Regions from separate parts of the Homo sapiens genome. Here region 2 is linked to region 1. The links come from fine-mapping of genetic effects on gene expression. Tissue or cell type: fibroblasts. Region 1 holds a variant in brackets; the other region holds the start of a gene. All regions are shown on one strand. Distances are from middle to middle.

Evidence for each region. PIP is the estimated chance that this variant, and not a neighbour inherited with it, causes the effect.
Region 2: it holds the start of SORBS2, and the variant in region 1 is fine-mapped to the expression of SORBS2 in fibroblasts (GTEx, PIP above 0.99).

Annotation. Positions count from the first base shown.
Region 1 is chr4:185,766,825-185,782,622 of GRCh38, reverse strand. It overlaps SORBS2 (sorbin and SH3 domain containing 2), which reads left to right. Exons shown (of 27, transcript NM_001395207.1): 2 at 7,257-7,396. Among named protein-coding and RNA genes, the nearest start is that of SORBS2, 37 kb to the left of the region's middle. RefSeq lists a silencer at 7,014-7,308. The variant T/G (reference allele first, on the strand shown) is at 7,605.
Region 2 is chr4:185,804,981-185,820,778 of GRCh38, reverse strand. It overlaps SORBS2 (sorbin and SH3 domain containing 2), which reads left to right and starts at 8,585. Exons shown (of 27, transcript NM_001395207.1): 1 at 8,585-9,115.

The sequences.
Region 1 (15,798 bases):
AGGTGGCATGGTTGATGTGTTACTTTATATCTGCCTGTCTGCTCATAAAACTACATTATAAATAATCACATATGGTTTCAGGTGGTATAACTGCCAGGCAATATATAGACAAATACATAATTCTCTCAATAACCCTAATCAGAAGAAATGTTTATCAGGGACCTCACTCTACCCTAGTAGAGTATCACATGGTTGTGAAAAAGGTCTAGGAATATGATATATGAATGCAAGTAACTTGTTTTATTGAAATCTATTTTAGAATAAATGCAAATTAAGATAACAGAACATATTATATCCTGAAGGGAAAAGCAAGTGGCACCTGCCTCTTAAGACAGCTTCTAAACCAAATATGTAGCTACAAAGCAATGTTTCAGAGAATCGTCTTGGTTGGAAACAGCTGCTTAATTAGAATACATAATGTTTTGCTTTTTACATGATCAGATACTTTTTATTTCACAAGTTCTGATAAATATAGAACCAAAAAATGTACTCTTGTGTTGCTTAATGCCTTCGGCAGAACTTATTTAATCATTTACTTATTCAGCAACTACGTATTGGCCCCTACTTAGGGCCAGGCAGAATGCAGTACCTGCGGGAGGAATGTAAGTCATGTGAGGGGCAAGCGGGAGCTGATAGGCTAGTGGAGGAGAGGGGCTCCGATCAATTACTCCAACAAATTCAAGCAACTGAACCTGAATTTAGAAGGAATGAGGAAGGTGATTCTTTACGAGTTAAAAAAAGGGGGTGGCGGGGCTACGCTGGTGGAGCAGGGAAGTCCTTCCTGAGGAAGAGACACGTGAAAGCTGGAGGCTGCATGGCATTCGCCACTGGGCAGGGAAGGCATTCCCATCACATTGAGCCAGGCAAGCCAGGGCCCTGGATGAGGCACAGTCCAGGAATGGAAGGGAGGCTGGAGAGGCCGGAGGCAATGGAAGGGAGGCTGGAGAGGCCGGAGGCAATGGAAGGGACGCTGGAGAGGCCGGAGGCAATGGAAGGGAGGCTGGAGGGGCCGGAGGCAAGGGAAGGGAGGCTGGAGGGGCCAGAGGCAATGGAAGGGAGGCTGGAGAGGCTGGAGGCAATGGAAGGGAGGCTGGAGAGGCGGGAGGCAATGGAAGGGAGGCTAGAGAGGCTGGAGGCAATGGCACTGGGAGGAAGGTGGTGGAGATCTGGGCAGAAATGCTGCAGAACACCAGATCGTGCAGGGCCTTCAGTGGGCCACATGGAGAAGGCTTCACAATTTTCATAGCAGATTTAGCGACTGTTGCATATGCTCAATTTCAAATGGAATAGAAATAACAAGAAAAGCTAAGTCATGGTTACATAAACAGCAGAGGTGCTCTTTAAATACACAAAGAATTCAGGCAGCCAGTTTAAAACAAAGTTTCAGGCTGGGCGCCGTGGCTCATGCCTGTAATTTCAGCACTTTGGGAGGCTGAGGCAGGAGGATCACCTGAGGTTAGGAGTTCGAGACCAACCTGACCAACATGGTGAAACCCGTCTCTACTAAAAATACAAAAATTAGCCAGGTGTGGTGGCGCATGTCTGTAATCCCAGTTACTTGGGAGGCTGAGGCAGGAGAATCGCTTGAACCCAGGAGGTGGAGGTTGCAGTGAGCCGAGATCACCCCATTGCACTCCAGCCTGGGTGACAGAGTGAAACTCCATCTCAAAAATAAATGAATAAATAAAAATAAATAAATGAAACAAAGTTTCAACTAGAAAATTGAGCTTCTAACAGAGGTTTTAAGAAGTTATTTCTATATAATCTCTTTCAATGATACTGGTCCTTTAACCTTTTGTTAAGATTTTCACCTCACTTGATAAACCTCAACCCAGATGGCAAAATGACACATGTGATGACAAATCGCCTACTAAAAAGTATTTACTTAACATCAATAACCAGGCAGTAGAAGTCATTGGACGTATGATTTGACTCCTTTCAAACAGTGCTGCAAAAAGGCGTAAATCATGGCAGACTGCCGAATGTAATCCAGATAAGCCCAAGAGAAAGCATAGGTTTAAGAGTCAGTAAGGCAGTTGCAGTCCCATGCCTCTATCTGCCTTTCAGGACACAAGTGTAGGGAGCTTGCATGACTGGTCTAAAGTCACTCAATGTATGGGCTTTAGTTTCCAGCCCGATGCATGCATTACATTGTTCAGCAGGTGGCATACCATGGGTGAGGTTCCTGTAGATGACCCGACGGATGCTTGCTACGTGCCCAGAGCTACCAGGTATCCTTATTTTTCTTGCATATGCTTCACTTCATTGAGTGTGGTTGAAGCAGACAAGCATAAAAGGTGTTACTCCAGGCCAGGTGCAGTGGCTCACGCCTGTAATCCCAGCACTTTGGGAGGCTGAGGTGCGTGGATCACCTGAGGTCAGGAGCTTGAGACCAGCCTGACCAACATGGAAAAACCCCATCTCTACTAAAAACACAAAATTAACCGGGTGTGGTGATGCATGCCTGTAATCCCAGCTATTCGGGAGGCTGAGGCAGGAGAATTACTTGAACCTGGGAGGTAGAGGTTGCGGTGAGCCGAGATTGTGCTATTGCACTCCAGCCTGGGCAACAAGAGCAAAACTCCGTCTCAAAAAAAAAAAAAAAAAAAAAAAAATGTTACTCTACTTAGTCTAGCCTTCATTTTGCTTACAATGTGCGTGACTTCAGCACTTCCCTGTTCATCCCCATCCCTTCTTTTAGTCAGCATTAGCTGATTTCTATAGGAGAATCTGACTGCTGTTTCAATATGTCTTTGAAACTCACGCCAGTGTTTCAGATGGTCTTGCTGCCTCGCCCTAAGCACTAAAATATTTGACTAAGAGAATGACACATTGTTCTCCTGGGATACTAGACAATGCCACTAGAATGACAGGGACCAGGGAGGTCTCTAAACATCTATAGCACAACTCACTCTTCAAAGGACTGCAGGGGTAAAGAATGTTCTCTAGAAAACAATACTCATGGGAAAACTACATTTACTTCCTTCCTACTGGGATCCTCTCAAATAATAGGAAGCGATGAGGAATCAATTGAGAATTCTGTGCTGTCTTGGGAAAAAAATGTAAAACAACACTCAGAGAAACCCTCTAAATATATGTGTTCAAAAACTCACGCCCATGAAAGTCCTTGGAAATCACCACAGTATCTTTTAAAAATTACTAAATTTAGCCACATATGGAAATCTGCACAGTTTTTCAAATATATTTTGATTATTTAACCAACATTCATATAAAATTTACAAAGCAGCAGATTTTTCCATGGCTGTTTCAAATAACAATTTTCACCCTCACAACAACCCAATAAAAAAAGGTCTCATTACAGAGGAGGAAACCGAGGTATGGGGAGGCTAAGTAAGTGACCTACAGCCACAGCCACGCGTAAGTGGCAGGATGAGGATTCGAACCCAGGCACCCTGACTCCAGACTCTACTCTTAAGTATTATGCACTTTTAAAAGTTTTCTGAAAGGTTCAACCAAGAAAGTGAGAAGCAAAGCTGCAGATGGTCTTTGCATATAGAATTGGAAGTTTTAAATGTTACCAGCGTGAGCCCAGATTCTCTCTTACAGTGAGGATTTTATTTTTACCAAGCTCTGTGAAACACACAACGCTCAGGTGCCGCCTGAAAATGTGAGAAGTCATTCGGCAAACTAATGAGGTTATTCAGACACACTCTTAAAGTTGGCGTGCTCGTTTATTTAAGGCCGGAACAGAGGTGGAGCGAATAACAGAAGGCCTCTCTACTCCAAAATATGGGTCTTTCTCACCAGTTCTAACAATTGTAGAGTTATTGGGGTTAACAAGATCCTCTTTTGGGATGTAAATACCCTCTAATATGGTTTGATCTGTGTCAACTATGCCTTAATGATGTACAAATGATCTAGATCCTGGCCTTTCCACATCCAGTCTGATGGGACTCAGTGCTTGCTTTAATCTGGAATCAGCTGTTCACGTATGCAGATGCTCGAGTCACATCCAGAGTCATTAAATCTGACTCTCTAGGGGCGGGGCCGGGGTACTGGTGTTTGTAAAAGTTTACCTTATATTCACCCAGGGATGACAGACACTACTTCATATCATTTCTCTCAAGTTTCAACATGTTTACACGCAGCCTGGGGATGTTGTGAAAATGCACATGCTGGCTCAGTAGGTCTGGGTGGGGCCTGAGGTTTTGCGTTTCTAACAAGATCCTAAGTGATGACGTTAATGTTGGTCCGTGGACTACTTTTTTAAGAAGCAAGGCCCAAGACCAGCGGTTTTCAAAGTGAGGTCAAGAATCACCCGGGAATTTGTTAGGGATGCAGAATTTCAGGCCCCGCCAGACCTACTGAATCAGACGCTCTGGGGTGGACCCAGCAATCTGTTTTTACGAAGCTTCTGGGTCATTGATGCTCACTACCTTTTGAGAACCGTTGGCCTGCATGGCACTGCCCAGTAGAAATAGAATGCAAGTCACATAGGTAATTTTAAATTAGCTAGCAGTCAGATTTGAAAAAGTAAAAAAGAAACAAGTGAAATTAATTTTAGCAAAATATCCTATTTAACATACTATGTCCAAAATACTGTCATTTCAACACATAATATAAAAATTAATGTCATAATTTACATTCTTTTTTCAACGTGTGGTCAATATAAAAATGATATGATAGTTTACATGTTTTAGGAAGAGACAACATTAATCTATTTTTATTTGTACAAATTTGTGGGGTACAAGGAGAATTTTGTTACATGGATGGACTGCATAGTGGTAAAGTCACGGATTTAATGAATGTGTCCATCACCTGAATAATGAACATCGTACCCACTGAGTAATTTCTCATCATTCACCTTTTTTTTTTGTATAAAGACCTCAAAATCTAGCATGCATTTTACACTTATATGACATCTCAGTTCTGACTAGCCGCATTGAGCTCAGTAGCCACATGTAGCCACCATATTTGGAGAGCAAAGCTTTACACTTACAGCAGAGATGATGGTACTGACTTTCACCAAATGCTTGCTGTGTGTCAGACATTACCCAGGTAAGCATTTTCTGTGCATTATTCCTATGAGCCCTATGACAACTCATTATTATCCCTGTTTTATACGAGAGTGGGTTATGTTGATCTTTGTTTCCTTAATGCCATAGCTTCTCAAGGAAAGCCAATATTTAAATGCATTATACCCTTTTTTGGTATAAACTATTATAAGGAGGAAAAAGAAAAAAACAATTAAAAAATGTGTCTGTCTGCAGCTAGGCTTCCAATTATTACCAGTAGAATTACCATTCCACATTGAGGCCAAGAGAAACAAATATCCCATGTTAGATTGGCAGGTATTTAAGACATAGTAAAATGTAACCATTTAAAATAAGTGAAAAGAAAAATGCTTTATTCTAGAGTCATTTTTTAAAGCCTGGTATACATTTTTAAAACAAAGTTGATCTTATTTATAAAATTCAGATTAGAGATTTCAAAGTTAATTTATAATTTTTTAATTTGAAATACAGTTTTAATATAAGGTCTATTGAGCCAAAGGATTTCACTGTTTTTAAATAGTACTTGAAGTAGTAGTCATGTAACCCTTTTTTTTCACATGGCATAATCCTCAGTATTTTCCATAATCTATTTCAGTGTCTTTCTTTAATGGCAAAGAAAGAATTGAATTTGAATTTGATATAAGCATCTAGCAACCAACCCTCACATTAATTATAAAATATATCAGGGCATTTTTTTTTTTTTTTTTTGAGATGGAGTCTCACTCTGTTGCCCAGGCTGGAGTGCACTGGTGCGATCTCAGCTCACCGCAACCTCCACCTCCCGGCTTCAAGCGATTCTCCTGCCTCAGCCTCCCAAGTAGCTGGGACTACAGGCGCGTGCCACGACATCCTGCTAATTTTTTGCATTTTTTTTAGAGATGGGGTTTCACCATGTTAGCCAGGATGGTCTAGATCTCCTGACCTCATGATCCACCTGCCTCAGCCTCCCAAAGTGCTGGATTACGGGCCTGAGCCACCGGCAGTTTTTTATACTGAATTCAGGTTGAAGACTCTCTTTTCATCTCCCGATGGAAAGCCTCTCAGCAGTACTTTCTGACTACTTAAGCATTCTTTTTGTAATGGGGAGTAGGGGGTTGAAAAAAACCAGGGATTTCATCTATTGGAATGAAAGCGTTCATAAACATACTTAACTGCTTCCTTGGTAGAAAGTAAGTAATTTTCCTCCCTGGTGGTGGTGTAAAGGCACAATGACTCAATGGAAGCCTGAAGTTGGTCTGATGACACACAGTATCTTCCTTCATCCACAATAGAAAGAGATCTCAGTCTTCAGCTGCCATGATGTGAATAGTCTCATCATGTGAAAAAGTCTGGAAAATATTTAAAAATTCTGTTTTTATTTATTCTCACTGCATCTGTGTGCTCTAAACCCCTGAAGGCAAGGACACTTCATTCTGCCCACCACTGTATTCCCAGAGTGCTTGGCTTATAGTAAGCTCTGAAGTGCTCACCAAATAAATATTTGCTGAATGAATGAATGAATACGACTTCTTAATTTTTATTTCTAGAAACAAAATGAAGGCTCAAAGTTTGTCAGTCATTGCCAGTGACCCAACCAGAATGATTTCTTCATTGGCCTGTGGAGGCAGAAGCAGGGGTCACTGTTTGTCTGCCTCATGTCACTGAATGGTCCCCAGTCTCTGCCAATAGATAAGAGATGTCAACGCTTAACCCAGTAGCTTTCAAAAATAGCATAGTTGATGAAACTGGAAATTTAGGTGCGGGCTCTTTTAAGAAATCATTTGTCTTCAGTCTTAAGAATAGACTGACAACAGATACTGCTACCAGAGGGCTCTCAACTATTTCTTAAGACCCCCTAGGAAATATCAGAAGAAAAGCCTCCTTCTCAATAAAGCATAAGTAGGACATCTCGTTTTCAGTGAATCAGGTAATTCATTTTGAAAACTTGAGGAGCACTGTGTTTCTTTAAGATTCCAGTCAACTTTGGGTTTGTTTTGTTTTCAATGGTGCTGGCAGTTTTCCTCAAAATTTAAATGAATATTTGCACAATGAACCAAGTCGTTGTGGGTTTCCTGGTTGGTGTTTTCTCCCCCCTGGAGTGGGGGGTGGCGATCTGGGCAAGGCATTTTCATCCCTTTGCAGACAACCCCGGCTGCTGTTAATGCTGAAAATAGCTCAAATGCTCTCAGAACAGTAGCACCACCCAGCAGCTGGGATTCTTTCCCTCTCTCATTTGCCTCTCTCTTGCTTTTTTTCCTTCAGACACTTGGATTGGACTTAATCTTAAACCTCTGGAGTTCAAGACCTTTTAAAAAGGGCTAAATAAACAATCTCTACATGTAAAAGGCCACTGACTCCTACTTCCTCTGTATAGAGCAACTGTTGAACTCAGCTGCCTGTAGGTAAGATTTTTTATTCTGGAATTATTTAATTGTTTTCTGGTATGTTCATAACTAATGTCTTTAAAATAACTTACTTATAGTGAAAATAATAAGGGGAGTTGTGAACAATTTTCAGGTAAACACGGTGTTCCAGAATACAGCAGGAGCATCTGGGCATTTTTGTGGCTGTAAGTTTTAAACTTTGCTTAAAGCTCTCATAATAGTGACC[T/G]GCAGTACACGCTTGACTATGACTAAGCCATGGATCAGAGGTCTAATTAAGCCTGATTGCCAGAGCAATGAGAGGATGTTTCAGACATCATATTTTTGTTGTTTAGACTGCTTTATTTTTAACTTTCCAGGGGCATTAAAAAAAAAAAAAGAGGAAAAAGATGCAACCATCCACCTGAGTAAAGATAATATATATAAGTAATTGTTCTTTAAGGGCAATGAGCGAGCCGTATTGTATAATGTTCTCCTTTCATCACTGTTTCGTTCATTGCTCGTGTGGAATTAGAGTGGTTGATTTGGGGGAATCTGGGGGTTTTGTTTTTGTTATTGTTGTTTTGTATGTTCCTAGCACATTTTAGGGGACAGTGTTGAGGATTCCTTACTAAGCTGACTGTCTTTTGCTGGGTACATCTGCTGGCAGGTTTCTCTAACGTGACAATGTGATACTTCGGGTCAGTTTCTGTGGCTCCCCTCTCCCCCTCGTTACGCTTGCACTTGACATTTTGCGAAGTACTTTGATCTGTGGACTTTAACTTCAAACACAGCATTTACTTTGATTGTGGCTATTTACTATGCTCAGTAAAAAGTCTCCTTTTTTTTCCTTTTGGTTTAATGCTTTCATAGCATTTCCTTTAAACAATTTATTGGAGCTTTAGTTTTCCTCACTGATCTGTCTTAGATTTCACTTCTAGAGGGACCCCCAATTGTAAGAAAAGTGTTCTCTGGTAAAGTTCTCCCCAACACAGACTTCAGGACAGTTCATGGCCCCTGTCTGGCAGATGTGTAAGAGCAAGCAGCAAATGAGAGTGCACAGAGCCCCGCGCTGGCTGCCCTGCTGCCTCAGAATCTCCGTGTGCCTTGGGGCCCAACTGGTGCTTTTTAAAAACATGGATGCTGAAATCTTTGGAGTTCAGAAATACTTTTTTTTCAGAAAAGTTTATTGGTATCACAGAGCACATATCAAAGGAAAGCATGCATTTTAACCACATAAGGATCGTCTGAGTAACAAAAACGGGAAGAAATAACAAAGAAAAAGAAAATTAGAATCAAAAGAAAACTGGAAAAAAAAAAAAAACCTTAGTAGCCAGAAGTCTGTTTTACGAGTGAAACTTCTGCTGTGTAAGGGATAAGGGATTTCTTAAAAATGTATTTCCTAAAATGGGCAAAATGTAGCACTTACTAGCCATTCAATCAGCTTTGGAATATTCTCTTCATTGTGAAGAAAGCACAGGTGTGTGTGACATTTGTTCCCTTCTTCTTTCCCACCCCAAGCACAAGGTATTTTCACAGTCCTCAGCCAAATACAGAGTTTGACGTTCCCTGGCAAACGGTCCCTGCGTGTTCTGTTGAAGGTTAGGAGTAGAATGAGCCTAATCCTGTCAGGAGACTGTTTAAGTCCCAGTCAAGGACGCTAGCTCCTCAGCGCTGACGCAGTCTGCCCCGTCCTCTGCACCTTGCTAAGAAGGACAAACGCAAGTGGCCACAGGACAAATCTCCAAAGGGGCGGAGCTGTGGAGAAAGCTACGGCAGAGATCTCCCTGGATTAGGAGCAGATGCAATCGAATCTCCAGAACTTGGATTTATAGTAGAAAAACCTAGAGATGTTCAGTCTAATCTTTAAGTTTCCCAAACCTGGGCATTTCATTGCCACTTTTCCCCTTCAAATCTACATTATAAGAAGCATGTCAATCATCGCATTTATGTGTATGGTTACCATTTTAAATCCTCCCGTTATTTTGAGCCTGGGCTTTGTTGGGGGGATGGGGTGCGTCTAGCTAGAATACTCACTCTCCCTTAGTACTGGGAAGCCTTGGTCTGCAGGGCTGAGTGCAAATATATTGCTAGAGGTGATAGTCCAGCGGCAAAATTAAATGGCACCAGGATGAAATCTTTTTGGAGAATGGTAGGTGATCATTCCATTCCCAGGCAAGCCATTTTCCCCCTGTTTTGTTTTGTTTTTTTTTTCTTTCTGTTTCTCTTCACCCCTGAATTTTACGTTGAAACTTTGGATTGTTTGAATGTGAAACTTCAGGTGAAAGCTAGCCAAAGCCACCGAGTTTCACCCAGCTTCCACATGAAAGAAGTATTCTACCCAGCCTTGCACGAAACTTGGCCTGTGTTGCCAAAGGTTTCATGAATGTCAGTGAGCCTGGATTTGAAACATAACCCAAGGCCAGGTGACTTCTGGTGACTTTGAGGCTTTATTGTATTAGTATAGAATCTGCTGAACAGGGACAGTCCTATTTCCGCATCTTCTACTATAGTTTCATGAGGGCACACGTTTTCCCCCAGTAAACTCCCATTTATCTCATGATGTTTGAAAGCCAGGTTCAATCCTAATGTGAATGTTTGTAGCCGTGGGATCGAAGCACTGGCAGATAGAGGTCTGCGTTTTAAATTCCAGCAGCCTGGCCCTCAGTGGTGTGAACATGTTGGTATAATTCAGCTGAAGGAAGGAAGTCCCGGGAGAGCCGTGGAATGCCTTTCTTTGCTTAAATATACCTCTGTGCTCGTGAGGAACAAACAGTAACATTTTGTCCAGGTCTATCCGCTTGACAGTATGCCTTTTGTTCCCTCTCCAAAGGTGGTGTCAAATATATTGGTGGAAAAATAATAAACTTCCAGATATTTTTTTTCCGCCTGCTCAACTGATATACTCCAAGGGAACATTGCAAGCATTGAGAAGTTCAGTACTGTGGCTGGGAATGTAAGGTATACTGAGAATAAAGGAGCTCTCAGTGAAGGCAATGTCCCTCAGAAAAGCATGGCGACCCAGAGTTGATGTGGGTGTGAACGGTCAGATGGTCCCCGGTTGGGAAGGGGTGTGTGTGTGTTTTCTGGGTCGGGGTAGTAGCGAGCAGAGAGGAAAAGGGAGATTTGTAAGCTTTGTTCAGCAAATCTGTCACATCGAAAACAAAAATAATCAAGCCCAGGATCTGAAAACATTCCTTTCTTTTGTAGATCATATAAATTTGTGTTGGCTGAATATTGAATTTTTTTGTATTATTTTTCTCATTAGAGACACCAAGCATTAGGATTCCAGGCATAGTAAATAATCTCCAATGAAAATATGACCCATTGGGAAACATAAAATCATTGCAGATAACTCCCATGAGTCAGTCCCAGGAAGGTCCTCATGGTTCTCTGGCAGTTATGAAATGCTAAGCCACCCAGGACACTAAGATCTGACTTGTCCTTTTCTTAGTTGGGAGATTTCTAAACTCATGTGAAGAATTTTCATAAAAATGAATGTGTGGCCTCACTAAAGATTTAGGCTATCTTTGGTGAGATACATAGATATAGATTTATTATAAAATTAAATTGCCATCAAATTTCATTTTGAAATTTCATAGTCACTTATATATTCAATAAAACAGACTTTCATTAAAGATGTGGTTTGCATTTTAGCAGGTGACATGCAGTGGATGCCCTAGTAGAGAAAGCACTGGAAAAGCTAGCAATAACACAATTTGGAAGTGCCATATGTAGAAGCTGCTTTTTAGCACTGGCTTCACCAGTCATAGTGTAGCATTTATCAGCATATGTGATTTGATAGCCCCAGACTGGTACAGTGAGCAGAGGAAAGGAAGATGTTCAAATGGAGGTTCTAGAGAAAATCATTCAGAACCATCCCACAAGGAAGCTCTCACTAACCATATCAAGGTATAAGGAGTTCAGTAGTTTTAAGACATTCATCATCCATAACAAAACAGAAAAAGGGGAAGGATAGGCTTGGCGTGGTGGCTCACGCCTATAACCCCAGCACGTTGGGAGGCCGAGGCAGGTGGATCACTTGAGATCAGGAGTTCAAGACCAGCCTGACCAAAATGGTGAAACCCCATCTCTACTAAAAAAAAAAAAAAAATGCAAAATTAGCCAGGCATGGTGGTGCACACCTATAATCCCAGCTACTTGGGAGGCTGAAGTGGGAGAATAGCTTGAACCTGGGAGGCGGAGGGTGCAGTGAGCCAAGATCCCACCATTGCACTCCAGCCTGGGCAACAAGAGTGAAACTCTGTCTCAAAAAAAAAAAAAAAAAAAAAAGGAAACGATGAAAATGCCAGGGAAAGGATTAAAAAAAAATTAAAAATTGAGAATCAACACCAAGCTAGTGTATGTGCAAATATTTCTCTAAATCATTAAAAATCTTATTTCAAGAAGACTTCATTTGTCATTTAAGAATGCAAAAATCAGTGCTTTAAAAATCTTTTTGTGCTTAATTGACTGTCAGAGAAAAATGGAGTCCATATAATATTTATTTCTCAAGGATATATTATTACAGTCTAAATTTACATATACAATGTACTTGTTTTATTTTTTTTTTAAATCAGTGTTTGTCTGATCAGGACATGATGACACAAAACAGTAACAGCAGTAGTCTCCCCTTTGCAGTAGAGCAAAGAGGATTATTTATCATAAGCAGATTAAACAGTCATTTCTAGAAGTCTGCATTCTCCAACCAAGTTTTTATTAGTTATTTGGATATTATGTTTTTCTCTGAAATAAGAAGTAGTAGAGCCTGAGCATCTCTACTCTAAAAGTCCGAAATCCAAAATGTTCCAAAATCTGCAACGTTTTGAGCACCAACATGATGCCACAATTGGACAATGAAGATGACATTAACACGGCAGAAAATGTGCATACAGATGCCACAGTGACAATGTGATGGGCTAATTGAAGGACTAGAGTGGAGTGCATTCCTAACAGAATAAGCAGTCATGTCCATTTAGAAACTCAAAGAGAGACTTCTAAGACAAAAATCGCTGTTAATGAGGCAGATGACGCTGGAGAAAACATTTTAAAAGCCATCCTACTCGGGAGGCTGAGGCAGGAGAATCACTTGAAACTGGGAGGCGGAGGTTGCAGTGAGCCGAGATCGTGCCACTGCACTCTAGCCTGGGTGACAGGGTGAGACTTCGTCTCAAAAAAAAAAAAAAATGCCATCCGGCAGAATGCCTCTCATTTCTCAGAGGACCCGCTTCATGATCTGTCAACTGCTTCAGATGTTTCTTATCACCTAAAAAAGAAAAAAAATACAGTGTACAGTGCCCTTTACTCCAAACACAGCATCATAGGTGGCAACTGAAAGCCTGCATTGTTTGTTGCTGCTGTTGTCTAACAGCTGAGAAAGGAAAACGGTCTTTTTCCTGTGCTGCCCAGTTACCTAAACACATTATTTTTCACTGTATTAATAGGATGTATCTTTACTGTTTAAAAAATAGTAGTATTAGGCTGGGCACAGTGGCTCACGCCTACAATCCCAGCACTTTCGGAGGCCAAGGCGGGTGGATCACCTGAGGTCGGGAGTTCGAGACTAGCCTGACCAACATGGAGAAACCCCATCTCTATTAAAAATACAAAATTAGCCGGGCATGGTGGTGCATGCCTGTAATCCCAGCTACTCAGGAGGCTGAGGCAGGAGAATTGCTTGAACCCGGGAGGCACAGGTTGCCGTGAGCCGAGATGGTGTCATTGCACTCCAGCCTGGGCAACAAGAGCAAGACTCTTTCAAAAACAAAAATAGTAGTATTTTCTACTGTTAAGTACTCACGTCTGAGTAAGAGCAGGAAAATGATTGCTTATTGGTAGCAAATAAATTCAGTCAGGAATGATGGTGATGCCAAACAACACCAGATTTTCCATGTGGGTGGCTGAGATATTGATGCCTTTGCTTTCTGACGGTTCAGTGTACACAAACTTCATTTTATGCACAAAATTATTAAAAACGCTGTATAAAATTACCTTCAGGCTATTTGGATACACTACATATAACATAAGCGAATTTCACATTTGGATCTGGGTCCTGTCCCCAAGATGACGCAGGATGGATATGCAAATATTCCAAAATCTGAAAAAATCTGAAATCCAAAATGCATCTCCAGTCTCCCATGTGCCTTTGACTTACACCTTCATGCTAAGGGTTGACTTTTTTTTTTCCCTGGTACTACAAGATGCTCCCGCATCATTTTGTACATTTCATGTCCTAGTCCTAAAATCAATTATTTCTTCAAGGAGCTCTGGTTACTTTTATTGAAAAATGGTATCAGTAATCAAGACCAGGGCATCCATTTTTAATTTTTGAATGTGACCTTATTGGCCACTTACTTTTTTCACTTGAAGAAAATTTTCTTTTTGTGTATGGAATTTCACTCTGTAGCTGTCAATACCTTGATCTGGTGTATAAAGATAACCTTTCTTGCTTTTTCAGAAGAACAGGCCACATGTCGCCCTTGCATACTCCCCTTTCCCTTACTTTGAAACAAATTCAATTAAATATGATCAAATTTGCATTTTTTTTTGTTTTTTTGTTTTTTTTTTTTTGAGACAGAGTCTCACTCTGTTGCCCAAGCTGGAGTGCTGTGGTGCAATCTTGGCTCACTGCAACCTCCGCCTCCCAGGTTCAAGTGATTCTCGTGCCTCACCCTCCTGAGTAGCTGGGATTACAGGCACGTGTCACCACGCAAGCTAATTTTTGTGCTTTTAGAAGAGATGGGGTTTTGCCATGTTGCCCAGGCTGCCAGGCTGGTCTCATAGTCCAGACCTCAAGTGATCCACCCACCTCGGCCTTCCAAGATGCTGGGATTACAGGTGTGAGCCACTGCACTTGGCCAAATTTGTTTTTCATTGTTAGTCTTGGTGAGAGATTCAAAGCCTTTGATATGGTCTTGAAATGCAATCTTAAAAGATAGAAATCAGTTGTTTCTTCCTTAAATAGACGTGAGAACATTGTGCATTATTTAAAATGTGATCAGTCTAGGCCCTTCAATGAACATGGGATTCTGTTACCAAGCCTTGTACGTACTGTGTGCAAGGAGCCGTGCCACAGGCAGATGAACAGTCTGGTAGGAGAGCTGGGCACATACACCTGGATATAACACTCTGCAAAAGAAGATGGGCAATGTGAAGTCCCCCAGAACTCTAGGAGCTCAGAGCTGGAATTGGGAGCTGGGCGTATATTGTACTAGAAAATCAGTGGTATTATCACAAAGGAAAAGCTGTACTGGAATTAGGATTTTGGTTTGGATAAGAGGGTATTCAAATGGCAGAAGGTGATGGACAGCAAAGATTCAGAGGAGAGAAAACTCAGGACTCAAAGAATATTTAGGTCCCATGCAAAGCCCCTGGGAAGGTGCATTGAGTTTGTGTTTATTTATTGAGAACAAAAGTCTCACCATCAGGCTCATGTGTTAGTAATACTGCTGAGCAATGTTCAAGGTGATTAGAGAAATGAAACGCTGGACAGACCCTGTTACACAGATGTAACTGAGAAGAGGAGGACAAAGACGAGAGCACTTGAAATAAGATGAGACCAATTGGTGCAGAGACCGAGGCCTCGGGGCAGTCAGTACTGCCCTGTGTATCTAGACTTTGTCCTAGAAAGTAAAACTTACCTGTAAAATAATTGCACCTATAATTTTATTTAATGCTCAGTATTATCAGAGATGAAAGGTTGTGTTTTTATTATTTCACCAAATGCATAGCTCTTTCATTTTCTTTCTCTTTTTTTTTTTTTTTTTTTTGAGACAGAGTCTCACTCTGTCGCCCAGGCTGGAGTGCAGGGGCGCGATCTCGGCTCACTGCAAGCTCCGCCTCCCGGGTTCACGCCATTCCCCTGCCTCAGCCTCCCGAGTAACTGGAACTACAGGCGCCCGCCACCACGCCCGGCTAATTTTTTGTATTTTTAGTAGAGACGGGGTTTCACCGTGTGTTAGCCAGGCTGGTCTCGATCTCCTGACCTCGTGATCCGCCCGCCTCGGCCTCCCAAAGTGCTGGGATTACAGGCCTGAGCCACCGCGCCCGGCCAGCTCTTTCATTTTCAATAAAACAAGAAAACCATTGGTCCAGGCAGTGAAGACGACATTTCAAATCCTAAGTTTTGGCTTTCTGTACTTCACTGAGAGAAAAACAAGCACGGGAGGTGAAGATTACAGAGAAAGACATGAATGTGCCAATAGTATAATGAGCCAAATGTTAGGACGAGGCTGGTTGAAATAACCTGTCGGCATACCGAAAAGAATCGAGTTAGGAAATTGACACAGTTTAAAAAAAATTTTAAAGACCAGCTTGATATTAGAAAGGATAGAATAGAAACATTATTCTCTTGTTCTCAAATAAATTTATGCCTGAAAAAAAAAGAGATTGAATTTAGCTTAATAGAAAAACACACGTACAGCATGTATTTTTAAGGCATTGCA
Region 2 (15,798 bases), 38 kb before region 1:
TTAAGTAAATAAAAGCACAAGTAAATGTGCAGCGTGTGAAGTCCCGGGACTGCCAGGACTCTGCTACAGAACTCTTAAAGAACACGGTGCCTCTTTTCTTAAAGGGCCCTGTGTGTCGGCTGAGACGCTGTCTGCAAGGCCTCCGTAGGCCTTCCCCGCAGGCAAGGTGTCCGCGCACGCTGCTCCCTAGCCTCTGTCCCTGTCCCTCTGTGGTCTCAGCTCCCTACTCCTTCCCCAACTGCAGGACTTGGGCACACCATGCCCCTCCTCTGAAGGCCAGCCCTGCCCTGGCAGCCCCTTGGCATCTGGTCGATAAAGTCCCCACTAGATTCTATGAAAAGGTTAAATGAGGGAAAGAACTAGGGCTGCCGAGAGAATAGGAAACTGGTGCCAATTTAAATTAAAGGGGAGGGGAGGACATCAGCCGGGAAGGAAAGCAGGAGGCAGAAGCGAAAAGGCCTCCTGCTGGCTGTTCACACAGCGCCGCGCTGTCCAGGTGAGGTTGCAGGGAGCCTGCGATAAGTTCCCACTGATGACACTAGTGCCTGTTTCTCCTTTGCTGAAGCCCACGGCCCTCACCGTCTGGACCATTCTTTTGATGAACACATGCATTTGTGTTGCTTTTTGACGCTCTGGTCCACGTCCAGCTGATGTTTCCCACGGTATTGGAAGGTCCCGGAGGTCCGTGCCCACCCAGTGCCGCACCATAAATCAAAGATACAAAATTCAAGATAATACCTAATACCCTTTTATGCTAATTAATGGATTTAATTGCCACAACCGCCCTCAGAATTAGATAATATTATCATCCTTTCTTATGAGGAAACAGAAGCACAAAGAGGTTAGGCAATTTGCATATCACACAGCTAACAAATTGCAGAATATTTGAATCCACACCATTTATTTATTTGTTCCACAGTGAATGAACAAGTATACTTTGAGATATTGATATGAAACCAGTATAAGGAGAGATGGCAATGCTTTGAGTCTGTGCTGAGGAGTTAAGCACAGTGGCTGGATAGGCAAGGACACCCCCAGGCAGGAATGAAGGAAGGGTGCTTCCGCAACCCACCGAGTCAGCCTGGGTGATCCCTGCACTGACAGGTGACCAGCCAGGAATAAAGGCTCACTGACAATGTCCAGAAATGAGATAGTACTTTCTTTGTACCCAGGCTGACATGAGCTGGCAGAGGCAGCTTGTTGTCTATCCACTCCCTATTATCAATTTGTTTCTCAGTAGTAGAACACTGGTTTACCTGGGACCAAAAGGCGTCCGGCTGAAAAGACCACGTTTTTGAGACTTACTTATCACTCAGGATGCAATGAGATATCAGCAGAAGTGCTGGGTGGGAGGTGGGGAAAAGCTCCTTCAAAGAGGCCAACTCAAGCGGAAAATGTGCCCCTTGGCTCTCCCTCTCCTCTTCTTGCCTGGAACATGGACCTGATGGCTGGAGCACAAGTAGCCATTCTGGACCACGAGGATTCTTGAGGATAGAAACCAGTTTCAAAAGATGACAGAACAGAGGGTAGGAGCTAGAGTCCTAATAATCATGAGGCCAATTTTCTACTAGCCTAGAACTCCTTATTTCTCAATCCTTCAAGTGAGAGAAAAATATAGCTCTGTCTCTTGTAAGCCCTGTTATTTGAGCTTTCTCTCCTATGCAGCCAATCCTGATCCTGTGATAAGACTTTCTCATGTGTTACCAAAAATTGAAACACAACTTGAGTTTGCTTCCAATTGTTGGAAGCAAACCATGTCTTTAATGAAGGAAAGATATAGGAAAGAGTCCACATGCCAAGAGAATAATGGGTCCTTCAAGATGCAGGTCAGGTATCAGCTCTCAGATAAATTTTTTAAAATCTACCTTTATGCCTATAGGAAAGTTGGTTGTGGAATGATTTGTCATGCTACTTTAAACCTCACAAGGAATGTTTCTTTTCTTTTTTTTTTTTGAGACAGAGTCTCGCTCTGTCACCCAGGCTGGAGTGCAGTGGCACGATCTCGGCTCACTGCAACCTCCGCCTCCTGGGTTCATGCCATTCTCCTGCCTCAGCCTCCCAAGTAGCTGGGACTACAGGCGCCCACCACCAGGCCCAGCTAATTTTTTGTATTTTTAGTAGAGATAGGGTTTCACCGTGTTAGCCAGGATGGTCTCGATCTCCTGACCTCTCACAAGGAATGTTTCAAATAGTCTTCCTTTGATGCAGGAAATGTCCAGAAGAATGTTCTCAGTTCAAGGCAATGATCTGGCAATTAGGATGCCAGAGTCTGACTTTTAAAAATATAGGCTGCTGGGCACGGTGGCTCATGCCTGTAATCCCAGCACTTTGGGAGGGCAAGGCAGGTGGATCACAAGGTCAGGAGATGGAGACCATCCTGGCTAACATGGTGAAACTCCGTTTCTACTAAAAATACAAAAAATTAGCCTGGTGTGGTGGCGGACACCTGTAATCCCAGCTACTCGGGAGGCTGAGGCAGGAGAATCGCTTGAACCCAGGAGGCGGAGATTGCAGTGAGCCAAGATTGTGCCATTGCACTCCAGCCTGGACGACAGAGCGAGACTCCATCTCAAAAACAAACAAACAAACAAACACATAGGCACTGAATTCTGACCTGGGTAGGCTTAGTAAAATAATTACCATTCTGGGTTATAGCTCCCATCCAATATTCTGCAAGCACGCATAGTTTATTTTTCCTACCTGCACGTGCTGTCACTGTCAGGCCTTTAACTGAACATCTACTATTTCCAGTGCGGATTGGGGATTTTTATTTTTCAACAGTATTTTCCACTTGTTGTTGGACCGTTGGATCCTAAAACGTGTACCTGATTGTATTAATACATCACTTGGGCCCATCTTATTATCTTGACCAATGAATCTTACTGAACATGTATTTCAGAAGCACTTCTAGAAGACACAAGGTGACCCTCTAATTTTCACTTCTTTTGAGATTTGCACATTTGGCAGCTGAGGGCTTTAGCATGATCTTCTTCAGAGTTTACGGAAGCTGCCCAGTTTCACCCAGCACCTTCTAATTTGTTTCAGTGGCTCAGGTGAAACCAGAAGCATTTGTTTTAAAATCCTTCTTGCCAGGTTTTGTTTGCTGAGCCTGGTGCGTTTCGTTACTAATTCAACAATGCCGTGACGGCAGAGCCCAGTGCTTTTTCTGCACTGGGTAGGGTGGCACGTTGCCCGGAAGTACCTGGGGGCCACTGCTGCCACAGGACACAATGCTAAGTGGGAAAGGTCATGGGAGCTACACTCTATTAATGTGGTCAGAGTGCCTCTCCAAGAACAAAGTGTGGCCCCTCACAGGAGCATGAAAGCAGCCAGCCCTCTCTTTCCAGGTCGCTTTTTAAGCTTATCATTATGAAGTATAAACAGTCAAATTCCTTGGGAGCAAGTGCAGCCTTTTCTGTATTGCTTGCAGAATCTCTCCCCACTGCAGGTTTAATAAAAGCCAGGAGTACTTTTCTCTAGCTACAGCAAGATGTATTTATATGTTTGGGACTGGTTAACAGGGCTGTGGGAGGGGGTTAATTGTGGGTGGTTTTTTTTTTCTTTTGTTATTATTGGATAACACCATTATTTTTTCCCCACCTGGTACTGACACATATTAACACACATTTTACGATAAAGTAGTTCCTGTAAGCTGCTGCAATCATAGTCATTTGCAAACCCAAAGCTTGATAAACCTGAAATATTTAAAACAATGTTGTTATTATTAGCCAGTAAAGACCGGGCTCTCCAGACTTAGGACTAGCTGAAACTTCTTCCTGTACCTCTTGCCACATTTTCCTTATTCCTCTTAACCTAGAGAGTATACAGAATTTCTAGGGGGTTCTAGGAACAACTAATGGGCTACACACAGTGTTTTTGTGTTAATAGGTTTGGCTTTCTCTCCAGTTTGTTGAACGGTTTTTTATTGCTGATGTTTACGTTCTTATCATTTGCTCTCTGGCAAGGTTTTGTTCTTCTATAATCATTTTCTCATTTTAAATTCATTTGATAAGTGAATTTCCAAAAACCCTCAACTCTGCTGGGTTTGTTTTGGTTTTGGGCACCTCTGATTTATAAAAGTCATTCTGGATACTGATCAGGGTCATACTTCTTCAGGGGATATGAACGCATTTGATTAGTAGCCTGTGGGTCAGTCTGCTTTCCAGCATATATTTCTTGGGGTTGGAATCATAGAAATAAATCCAATTTGTTTGACTGAGATACTTCAATCCTCCTCCTAAGTCAGTTGTCACATTTCCCATCAATGTCCTATTTTGACATTGTTCACGTCATTGTGAGAGTAACTAAATATGCAAGGTTTTGGAATAACCTTTGGGATATTCTATTTTATTTGTTTTAGGAATTAGAAAATTCAATCTAAGCTTTACAAAAGTCTTTGCTACCTCATAAACCATGCTTCAATTCCAGTCTCTAAGTTAAGTCATATGACGTGTTTCTTTGTTGTGCCAGGGACCAGATCCTTTGGTGGGTCCCAGCTGTGGAGTCTGCAGCAGAAGATGTGACTAGAGAAGAACCTATTGCTTCAAGCAGTGATGATTTTGTTGAATTAAGGAAACAGACTAATAAGGATTTCAAAATACGAACCAGAGGATAAATGGTTTAAGATCAGAATACAGGGAAGCAGTAAATGTAGGGAAATAGCAAACTTGTTTCAAGAAAGTGCAAAATGTTTCCAATACTCTCTACCAGAGTAGCCTCCTCAGAGTAACAGTAATGGTAGTAATCACTTTAGTTACTCCATAACTTATTAACTTCTTTAGTTTCAACTCTGATAAATAGTTATGTCTTCATCAACTAATCTTAACCTTAACTCTGTGTCTATTCTAAACACTATTTTTATTCTCATTTTATTTCATTTTTTAAAACTTTGTATCTTGAAAACAAATCAAACTTATAGAAAAGTGCAAAGAATAGTAAAATAAACTGAAAATATTCTCATTTAAGATTCATCAGGTGTTAGCATTTTGCACATTTGTGTTTGCCTTCCATAGATGATACACAGATGATAGATAGGTAGATTGATTGATGTGTAGGTGTGCATACGGTATAACTTAAAATAGAAGCTAGATAGATAGATAGCTCTCTCTCTCTCTCCATATATATGTGTGTGCGTATACTATTAGAGCATATATATGTGTGTGTATATGTATTCTTTGATGATAATATATTTGTTTGAAAATCCTTCTAAACAAATATTTGTCTTAGAAAATCATATTATGGTGTGGTATTCTACGCTTTCATACTGAACATAATTTCTGAATGGAGATTTTCACACACATTCTGTATTTTCATTTCATAATAAAAACCAAAACAACTAGCAGTGTGAATTATAGGGTTCCCTTTATATGTTAGTGGATATCTTAATAACCTTTAATAATATAACAAATTTAATTATAATGTTTAAATATATATAAAAAATACCTTTATGACCACGTTGTTTAAAATTCCACACTAAGACAACAATCTCAATAGAGAAAACAGGCAAAAGCTATGAACAGAAAATTTACAGAAGAGGGAACCCTGAAAACCATCAACAATGAAAAGATGTTCAATTTGTCAGTAATTAGAGAAACACACATTCAAACAATAATGGGCCATTACTCTGCACCTATTATATTAGCAAAATTTTAAAACTAGATAATGCCAAGTGTCCTTGTCATAGCTGATTGGACCAAGGCACAGGGCAGCCCATGTATAAAGCTGCTGGCCACATAGGTGGTATCTCACTTGACTCAGAAAGATGGGCTGGAAAAATCAGATTTGTCTCTTGGAAATCTGTATCTAGCACATTTTAAAACAAACACGTTTGGAAGGAGAATAAACGTCAGGGACCTGGGCTAGGGCAGGGCCTGAGGTCAGAGCAATGCCAATGGGCCTCAGTGCACCAAGTTACAAGGGAGGGGCTTCGAGCAGGCGAAGGAGCCAAGAGCCTTGGAAGAACAGACTGGCAGCAGAGTGATGTGTGAAGGCCAGTAGAGATGCCGGGAGACGTGCCACGGGGCAAAGAGGGGAAAGGGATTCATCTCAGTTCCTGCCAGCTTCCCAGTTCCGGTTCAGTGCAAACTGGGGGACTTCCAGTTCTCTTTGGAGGAGCAGGAATTGGAGGTATAGGGGAGGAGGAGATACAAGAAGAAGGATGAAGGCCTTTGAAATTCCAAAGGAAAATGACTTCAGATATTTGTTTGTTTGTTTGTTTGTTTGTTTTGCTACTAAAAACAGAGACAGAGTCTCCCTCTGTTGCCAAGCTGGAATGCAGTCATGTGATCACAGCTCACTGCAGCCTCGACCTCCCAGGCTCAAACATTCCTCCTTCCTCAGCCTCCCGAGTAGCTGGGACCACAGGCGTGCACCACCATGCCTGGCTAATTGTTTGTTTGTTTGATTTTTTTTTTTTTTGTAGAGATGCAGTCTGTTGCCTAGACTGGTCTCAAATCCTGGGCTCAAGTGATCCACCTGCCTCAGCCTCCCAAAGTGCTGGGAATAAAGGTGTGAGCCACGGCCAGAGATTCTTATGCCTTGCCAACCAATCAATCAAGTGTGAGGGTATAAAGACATTTTCAGAGATACAATGAAAAGAAAAGCCACCCTAAAACATCAAGTGCACCTAGAGTTTTCTTGATATCCTTTTGTAACATGCCAGCATTTTGTCAAAATCACTGAAGTTCTTCTGAAGTGATGAGTCAACAAATGTGTGATGTTGAAAAGTAAATTAAAACACAGATTTCACACCAGCCAGTCATCAGTCCCTATTCATACAGTGTCGTAGGTCCTCATTTAGAGGCATTGAGAAATTAGAATATTCCAAGCATGGAGGGCAAAGAAGACATGGACCAGATTGGCTTCCAGAGAGTTGATAGAACAGTCTGGGAGTCAGACATAAAAGGAGAACTGCTAAGAAGTCCCAGGGCGTGACAAGGCCTGTAATAGCAGAGGTGGACCCCGGTACAGGGGAGTCGCAGAAGAGGTCGCTCAGACCCCACCTGGGAGAGTCATGAGTGAGGTGGTCCATTTGGGCCAGGTGTTGGAAGATAAAAGAGGAGGCAGATTGGGATGGAGGTTAAAGGTGCTGGGGCGAGGAGCAGTCAGATTGAGAAGGTTTTTAATAGTAGCAGCATCTGCAGGGCAAGGAAATGGTGTGTAATGCAGGATTCTGAAACGTGGGCAGTGAATAGTAGAATGGGAGGCTGAGGGCGAAGGCAGGGGCACGCTCAGCAACAGCAAATGCAAAATAACTTCAGGGAAGGGAACTTCAGTGAGAAAAGGTAGGCTGGCTGGAGGCGATCTGAAGCGGTGAGGACTCTCCCAAGCAGGAAAGCGCCACCCACTTGTCCTCCATGGATACGCTGACCCTGGGTGGCTCAGACCTACCTAATGTGAATCCGGTTGGGGAGGAAGGGGAGCGGGCATCCCCAAATCTACATCCACAGGATTCCTATGCAGTCAAAATTTGGGAATTAATACTGAAGGCAGGAGTGTTAACATGGGTAGGGAAACGCAATACTGACGGAATCCTAAATCAATGACTACTTAGCAAATAGAACATCTATATTTACAAGTCCAAAGTGTTAACATAACTATTTGAAACAGATTGCTAGAAACAAAAATAAATGGGACAGTGCCTTGGAAATATATCAGATAGAATATGACTGGTGATAGAGTCCTGAAAAAGAAGAAAAGCCTGGGGGTTCTGCAGAAGATTTACGTTGTTCATGGCATTAATCATGGTAGATTCCCAGAGGAGGTGAAATGTTATGGACGGGTGGAATGTGATCCATTTTACTGAGGAAGTAAAACTATTCTTGCCTTGAAGGTAATGTTTAAAGTCAAAGAATTTTTAATTAGGTGCGGATTTTTTAAAAAGAATTTTTAATTTACAAATAAGATTGAGTTAAAGAATCATTTTCTGCCGTAGAAGCAATAGGATTTTTTAAAAATTCTATTTTAAATTGCATAAAAAGCATCTTAAAGTAATCAGATAAGTTGAGCCATAAGTAAATGGATATTTAAAGATCTTATTAAAATAGTCTACCTGATTTAGTTATTATTCTGACCCTATATAGCAATTCACAGGGTTTTGTTTCAATTAAGTGGCTCTAAGATTATCATTTAAAAACAAAAAGTGTAACTCTCCCGTTTGCAGCTCTCTGCACTCATTCTATGACTGGAAGGTGGGGCTTGTTTTGACAATGCTTCCAGTTAGGGTCTCTTAAGTGATTTGCATGTTATTAACCTGGATAGCCACTAATAGGGCTTCACTTCCTCGATTTCATACATAGCCCCGGCTCATATAAAAAAGAGTTCTTCAGGAGAGCAGAAAAATCGGAGCACTTGCACTATCGGTGAAATGTGTAGAAAGATAACAGAAGCTACCCTCCTCAAAAAAATGATGAGTTTGATGAAAAGAAATTAACAAGCTGTGTGAGTGTGCTGCACATGATCAGCCATGCTTGCTAAGTCTGTCTGTTGGTTGTTGCTATGGCTACGAAAAGCCAGTGGAACCCAATGAGCTGTCTGCAGCAGAGCTGAGAGGACCAGCCATTTTACTTATGGAAAACAGTGTGGCATATTCTGCTGAGCTTCGCCCTGGAAGAAGCCTCTTTTATACATCTCTTCAGGGAAGAGAGAAGCAATGGGCATGTTAGTATACAATGATCACAGCCACGCAGGCCTGCAAGCTGCCTTTTGGACAGGCTGTTGACTGCCGTTCCAATTAGCTGATTGGAGAATGTGGAATGCAGAGTGATAATGCTGCATATCTGCTATCAGGCAGCAGCAAAGGTTTTTGTCTTGGGAAGGCAAGCTTTCCCTGCAATATTATCTCAGCAGCTCCCTAGCTGCTTACCCTGAAAACGAGGGATCCAAACGGAGGGTGTTGCACTCTGCTAACGCTGGTCCTGTGCGTGGCTGTGGCATATGAGCGGCAGGTCTGAAAAAGCAGGTGTGTGCTGGGACGGGCACTGGACTGGAACGCAGGCGGACGCTCTCGGGTTTACCTGCTTCCTGTTAACAGATTGTGGGCTCCCAGGGCATATGTCTGCACGCTGAGGCCGAGGCGGAGAAGGGGCTTCCTGAGCGTCCCAGTACACTGACAGAGGTAAGCTTTTTTGACCTTTTTGAAAGCACAGCATAAAAATAACTGGGGCAAAACTTAGCCTGAAAGATTTACGTTGATTGTGTGATTTGGATTTACCAAACAAACATACACAGACACATACACACACGCATACACACACATTTCTAGAAAATAGTATCAGAGACATAGAGTTGTTTCAGTGAATTTTGGTTCTAGCAATTGGAAGATAAAAAACATGACCGATATGCTTTGGGGTTTTAAAACCAATATTTACTGTTTGAGCAGACTACGATGGCTTGTTCTGAACCGTCCTCACAGCCAACAACATTTCTCGCTTGTGAACAATGGATTCTTTCGTGACCTGCACTTTGACTTGTATTCAGAGAACTACATGAAAAAGAACTACATGAGAAGCATTTCTTTTTAAGCCTCGTAAATGATTTATTTAACTCTTAACACAGCTATGTACACACTTAAATTGAAGAATTCTGTTCTCTATGTGGGTCATAATAGCCAGTGGATTTTGTACTTGCTTACCCTGGACTGAGTGTCTTGGTGTCCTGTTTGATTTAGTTGGGGTAGTTGTAAAGCAAACAGTGTAGGTATTGGAAGCCGTTCACACCTCCTTTCCGAGTATCTGCATGCCTTGCTGGCCCAGAGCACAAGACCCCCATTGTGCTCCCCCGGCTCAGAATCCAAGGAAAGAAAGGAAGCGAAGCCTCTGCATTGAGTTCTAGGACAGCTGAGGTATGTGGCAGTAAAACTTCTTTTCTTGCACAATTTTTCTCACAAGCAGATAGGTTTCAGAGATAAAGAGTGAAACCAAAAACACCGCACACCTCATCCAAATCTGCGCTCATACTTGCAGCAAATGTTTGCTGTCAGTTGCTTCATAATAACAGCACAGACCCCGAATTGCAGGAGGAATTGCCTGGTAGTGAGTATTTCCTTGATTTATAGTCTCTTAGGAACAAAGCTGTTACTGTGGATTGAAACTGGTCAGTCAAATCAAAATCCCTGGTAAGAAAATGACGGAGTAAGGATTAGATTCTGGTTCAGCAACATTTCAGCTTTACTCAAGTCAGTTCTTTGGTTGTTTTGTTACCAAAAATGTCAGATCACTTATAATACTATTGAAAATATTTAATAAAAATGTTTGGTCAAAAACTTTGAACAAAACCCCTATCTACAAAAGATGGAATCTACTGTGAAATTTAAAATAAGTAGTAACTGAGATCTACTTCTAAGAAGTATATTTTTATTTGCTACCTTTTTCCTCCAAAATCTGGATGACATGAGTCTCTTCAGAATTTTAAGTATAATTTTCACTGATAGATATGGGCAGGAACCGCCTGTTTCAGAGATGTAGCAATGTTCATAAGCCCTAAGATAAGAGAATGCTAAAGCAGTAGGAGAATAGTTTTCCAAACTTTTGTTCTAAATGTCAAAATAGTCAAAATATAAAGATAGAGACTAAGAATCTCAGTGGAGCCAAACATGTGCAAACGTTTGGTGATAAGTGTACGCCTATGCGGGTTGTAGGGGATAAAATGGTGAGGTGACGGCCTTGTACTTCATTATGTTTAACATTCAAAGGAAAGCTAAATGAACAGACTTAGTTCTGAGTCCAATTCTATGAGCAAAAATATCAGCTAAGTAAGGGATTCTATATGAGCTGAATGAAAGGTAGAGAAAATCTCTCTCCAATTTAATTTCCTTCAAAGCTTTACACTGCCAAAGGATTTCTTAGAATTGACACAGTGCAAAGACCTGCAGCAAGCACCTGATTTCCTATTAATTTTTCTTGGGGGAGCTTTTAGAAGAATGAGGTGTAGAAATATCCAGGGCACACCCGACTGCTGTGCCTGTTGCATTGATAGTGGCACCAAGTGAGACAAGACCCTTAGCCCACGGGAGGAATGGCACACACTTTATACCTGTGCAAGTTCTTTCCTATTTTAGTAACCTTTTAAGATGACATGCTATACACAGATGACCATTTTAAGTTCAATTCTGTACAGCGCATCTCCATAGTTAATAATTCAACAATTTTGAGAACCAGGTTCAGAGACATAATCTCTATCCTTCAAGACTTTGCACTTTCGCTTATGGCTATTTTTAGACCCTTATTTTCTGCCACTTTCCAACTCTTCTGCTGGCAATATCAAATATTTTGGAATTTCCAAAACATACTATATCAGATTTTTTTTTTTTTTTTTTTTTTTTTTTGCAAATGCAGTGCCCCCTGAAGAGTCATTTCCTTTAAATCTCCCCTGCAAGGACAGCTGCTTTCATACGCCCTTCAAGTCCAGCTAGACATCCCCCCTCACTGTCCCCCACCCTGCTTGGCTACATCTGAATCTTACTTCTGACTTTCTGTCTGCTGAACCATATTGCATTTGTCCCTGTTCACAGCCTTCCAGAGCTTTGCTGGCCTCTGATTCTAAAGTACTTTGTCCAGTGTCCAGAATTTTGCATTCAGACATTGTACTGGTAACCTCAGACTTCAATATTTTCCTATTAGTTACTGTAAATATAGACTTGACCTAGAAATAGAAGTCCTAATACTGCCTTTTATCAAGGAAACTTAAAACATTTGAAAAACAACAATGAGGCTTTCATTTTTCTGATTTGAAAATATGGCTTCAGGATCCCAATTTCATAAAAGCTACAACTGTCCTATAATAAATCCAAATTTCCCGAGGGAAAATTTTACAATGTATGTTTTAAACAAAACAACTTGAATGTTTTAGTATATAAATAATACTATTTTTCTATCCATGGCTATTATAAAATGTATAGAAAATATCCCTATTACAAATTTGTTATGGAATCAGACTGTTTAAAACTAATGTTGAGTTGATGATGATTAGTAGCCGATTATAATGTAAGACACTTATGAAGTTGTTTTTCTTGCTGAAACCAGAAGAAAGTAAAGGTCGTGAACTGGAAAGAGATTAAATAATTGAAATGAAGTCTACAATGGCAGCATTTCTTTTAATGTTCCTAAGTAAACCTAAAAGGTGACTGGAAATCACTAGTTACGTTACACTAGTTATGTTACCCTACAACTTGAGTACCTGGGTAAGGGAGAGAATATTCTCTTAGAATCACTCTTGATATAGATATAGGTTTGTTTACAGAGACTTCCTACCCTCTGTTCTATATTAGATAACATTATTAGTATTTTTTAAATAAGCCTGATTTCAGTAGCCTTTTTATGAAAAAACTGCCACAATCAAAAATAAGAATGTACCCATAGTTTTATTAAGAAGTTATAAATACATAATTCCTTGTCTTTAAGATATCTGTGTTGAAAGCAAAAGTTCTAATTAATACTGTATGAATTTTTGTATATAAAGTAGAATTGATGAGGAAGTTTAAAATATCCTGATATTTGGGATTAGAAAGTAAAATATTTAGGAAATTATTTAAATTCATATTTCTTGACATTATTGCATTCATTCCAGCATTGAGTTTTCTAATAAAAGTAAGATAAATAGCAATTCTTAATTATCATGCTGTCCTTTAAAGCTTATTTTGGCTATCTTCCAGCTGATTTTAATGTACAGCATGCTATAATTAAATAATAGCTAAAGTTGGAATTGGTTCTATTCATCTTAAAGACTAATCATGTTTAATTATTTTAAATTGCATATAGTAATTAGATTTCAGAAACCATGATTTTGTAATATGCCTGTACTGTTTCTAACATTTTCTATTTTAAGTCATTTATAATATTTTTAAAGGTCTCAGTTATGTCTAACTACATGGATAGCATAATGAAATGAGTTGCACTTGTATTTTATAAAGAAGACTTGTGATATATGATTGCATTAGATAATTTTCTGGAAGTTCCTCAAACTAACAATTTAATTATGGATATGCCTGTTAAATCCTAAACTGCCACTGTCACGTGGAAAAATACAGATAAATATGTTTTCAAAATATGTTTTTCTGTATTATTTCTGAAAAACTCAAGACATGGACATGCAGTTAAAAGGAAACACTTCTGCAACTGTTGAGTTCTGAGTATTGGCAAATAAGAACTCACGTTTCAGCTTAAGTTCAATTAAGATGATATTTGCTGAATAAATGACGGGGAACCAGCAAAGACGGGTTTTTACTTTGGTGTTTGCAGCATAACAGATCCATATGGAACTCCACCACACTTCACTGCACCTTGGTCTTCAAAACGGAAATATACTAGTTTACCAAGTAGGAATTTTGGCCAAAAAAGCAGTGGTTTCCTCTTCCCTATACAGGTGAGGTAGACATAAATTCAGCATTAAATTCTGTACCTTAGAGAAGCATTATTTGAGCAAAAATTCAGAAAGCTTTCACTTTCCTGAATCCAATCAAGGGTCTTACTTTCAAAGATTTTCCCACCTCAAAAAAACAAAAACACAATAAAAAAGAAAGAAAACAAAAAGGCCTGGTAATGTTCTCATTATATTTTCTAATTTCTCTTTATATATTCATATTATAATTTAGGGAAACTTATTTTTAACAAAGAACATTATCTGAAAGTTTCGGTGATATTTTGTTTTTTTCTGTTCATTTATACGGTTGCCTACTTATTAAATTTTTGATTTTTTAAATTTAATCAGAAATTCAGTTTTTCTCTCTTCCCTCTGAGATGTTTTCCCAGTGGTTAAAGTAAATTACAAGTCTTATAATGAATTATATCCTCTGCTTTGAATGGGAGAGTTCATCCAATCCATTGTTAGAAATAGTTCTTCTTTTCAGGTTCCTTGTCCTAGTACATTTTTTCTGGAATAGTTGAATTTGAGGACAGGGGCAACATAAACCCGTCAGGCTCCAAATCTTCTGATGTTCTATTCAATTCAGCATCCCTCAGAGACTAATATAGCTGCAAGGATTAGCCGCAAGGAGTCCAACAAACTATAGCAAAAACAGGATTCTAGGCCGGGCGCGGTGGCTCACGCCTGTAATCCCAGCACTTTGGGAGGCCGAGGCGGGCGGATCACGAGGTCAGGAGATCGAGACCATCCCGGCTAAAACGGTGAAACCCCGTCTCTACTAAAAAATACAAAAAATTAGCCGGGCGTAGTGGCGGGCGCCTGTAGTCCCAGCTACTCGGGAGGCTGAGGCAGGAGAATGGCGTGAACCCGGGAGGAGGAGCTTGCAGTGAGCCGAGATCCCGCCACTGCACTCCAGCCTGGGCGACAGAGCGAGACTCCGTCTCAAAAAAAAAAAAAAAAAAAAAAAAAAAAAAAAAAAAAAATAGGATTCTAGCCAAGAGCTGTGCCACTCGTGAAGATCCTCTAAGAGTACAAGCATGGGATGCCATGAAGAATGGCAAGTGTTTTAAATGCACAGAAAGAAAAACATATTCAAATGAGATTTTGGCTATGTTGGAGAAAATTTATTAGTATAAATATTCATTCTAGTCTCCTCTAAACAGAAGTCCCTGTACTTACTTCTCGCTGAGGACAGCCAGCTTCTCAGAGGCACTGAGTCCTCTGAAGAGGTAACACCACAGAGGCAGCAGCCTGGCTGGTGGAAATGTGCTTCATTAAGCCTTCGGCTGCATGGAGAATCCTCTTCCACCTATTGAGAGGAGTCAGCGACTTCTGCCTCACTGGGTCTTTTTAATACCAGATATTTATACTTCATACAGGTTGCCTACACTTTATGCTACTAAACAACAAAAGTTTAAGAGAGCAACGCTTGGCTGCTTAAAAATGAGCCTTTTTGGTAGATTATCAAGATGCCTTCACACCCAATTATTTCAGTTCTCTGTGCTAAAGTTAACGAGGGAAAGGAGATTAGATAACAATAACCTCAGCTGTTGTTGTGCTATAACTGTGTCATCTGGTGAAGGGTTTGAGCACTTTCCAAAACGCGTGCATTTAACCCGTCAGACGTATTCTTGCACTATAGTAAATACTACATATTTTAGTTTGCTCAATATCTCAAAATCTAGGTTTCAAAATTTTTATAGCATAGTATTACTAGTAGTTAAGATGAAAATTGTATAACTGCTTGGTTGCTCTGCTACAGTGTGAATAGACCGGTGTTGTTGGATGGACCTAGAGCGCCAGGCTTAAACCAGTTTACGCAAAGGGAGGTCAGGAGAGTGGTGAATGGCAAGAGAATGGAAAAAGGTACAGGTTACTTCTGCAGAATAAAAGTTACAGGGAAAACTTGACTCGCTTTAGAATGGCAGCCGGAACAGAGAGGCCCTCAGCAAACAGGTCAACATACTGCATATTCAGTCAGTATTTGCTGAATGAATGAACGGCTTACAGCAATCAGATCTTCCCCGGTGTTGTGCTAATGCCAACACATGATTAGAAAGTGCTCTTTGAATCTACAGATAAAGTGACAATTCAGACATTTTTCTGATTTTTTAAAAATCAGAAAACAAAGGAGAAGAAAAAACACATGAAAATTTAAAAAGGCTATTATTAAACATATATATATATATAGTCTTCCTGGTGAGAAGCATTATACTTTAACAATTATATAAGACAGAAATATTACCAGAAGCATAGATAAAGCTCAAATGCAACACATCATATGGTGAATAATTCAGAAGATAAGAAAAACTGATTTCTAATCTCAATTTTTTTAAAGCCTCTTGGTACAGTCACATTCATCAAGAAATATAATCAACCTAAAGAGTTAAAATTTTCTTTTGTAAAATAAAAAAGAATAAGAAAGAAAAGTTTAAATCC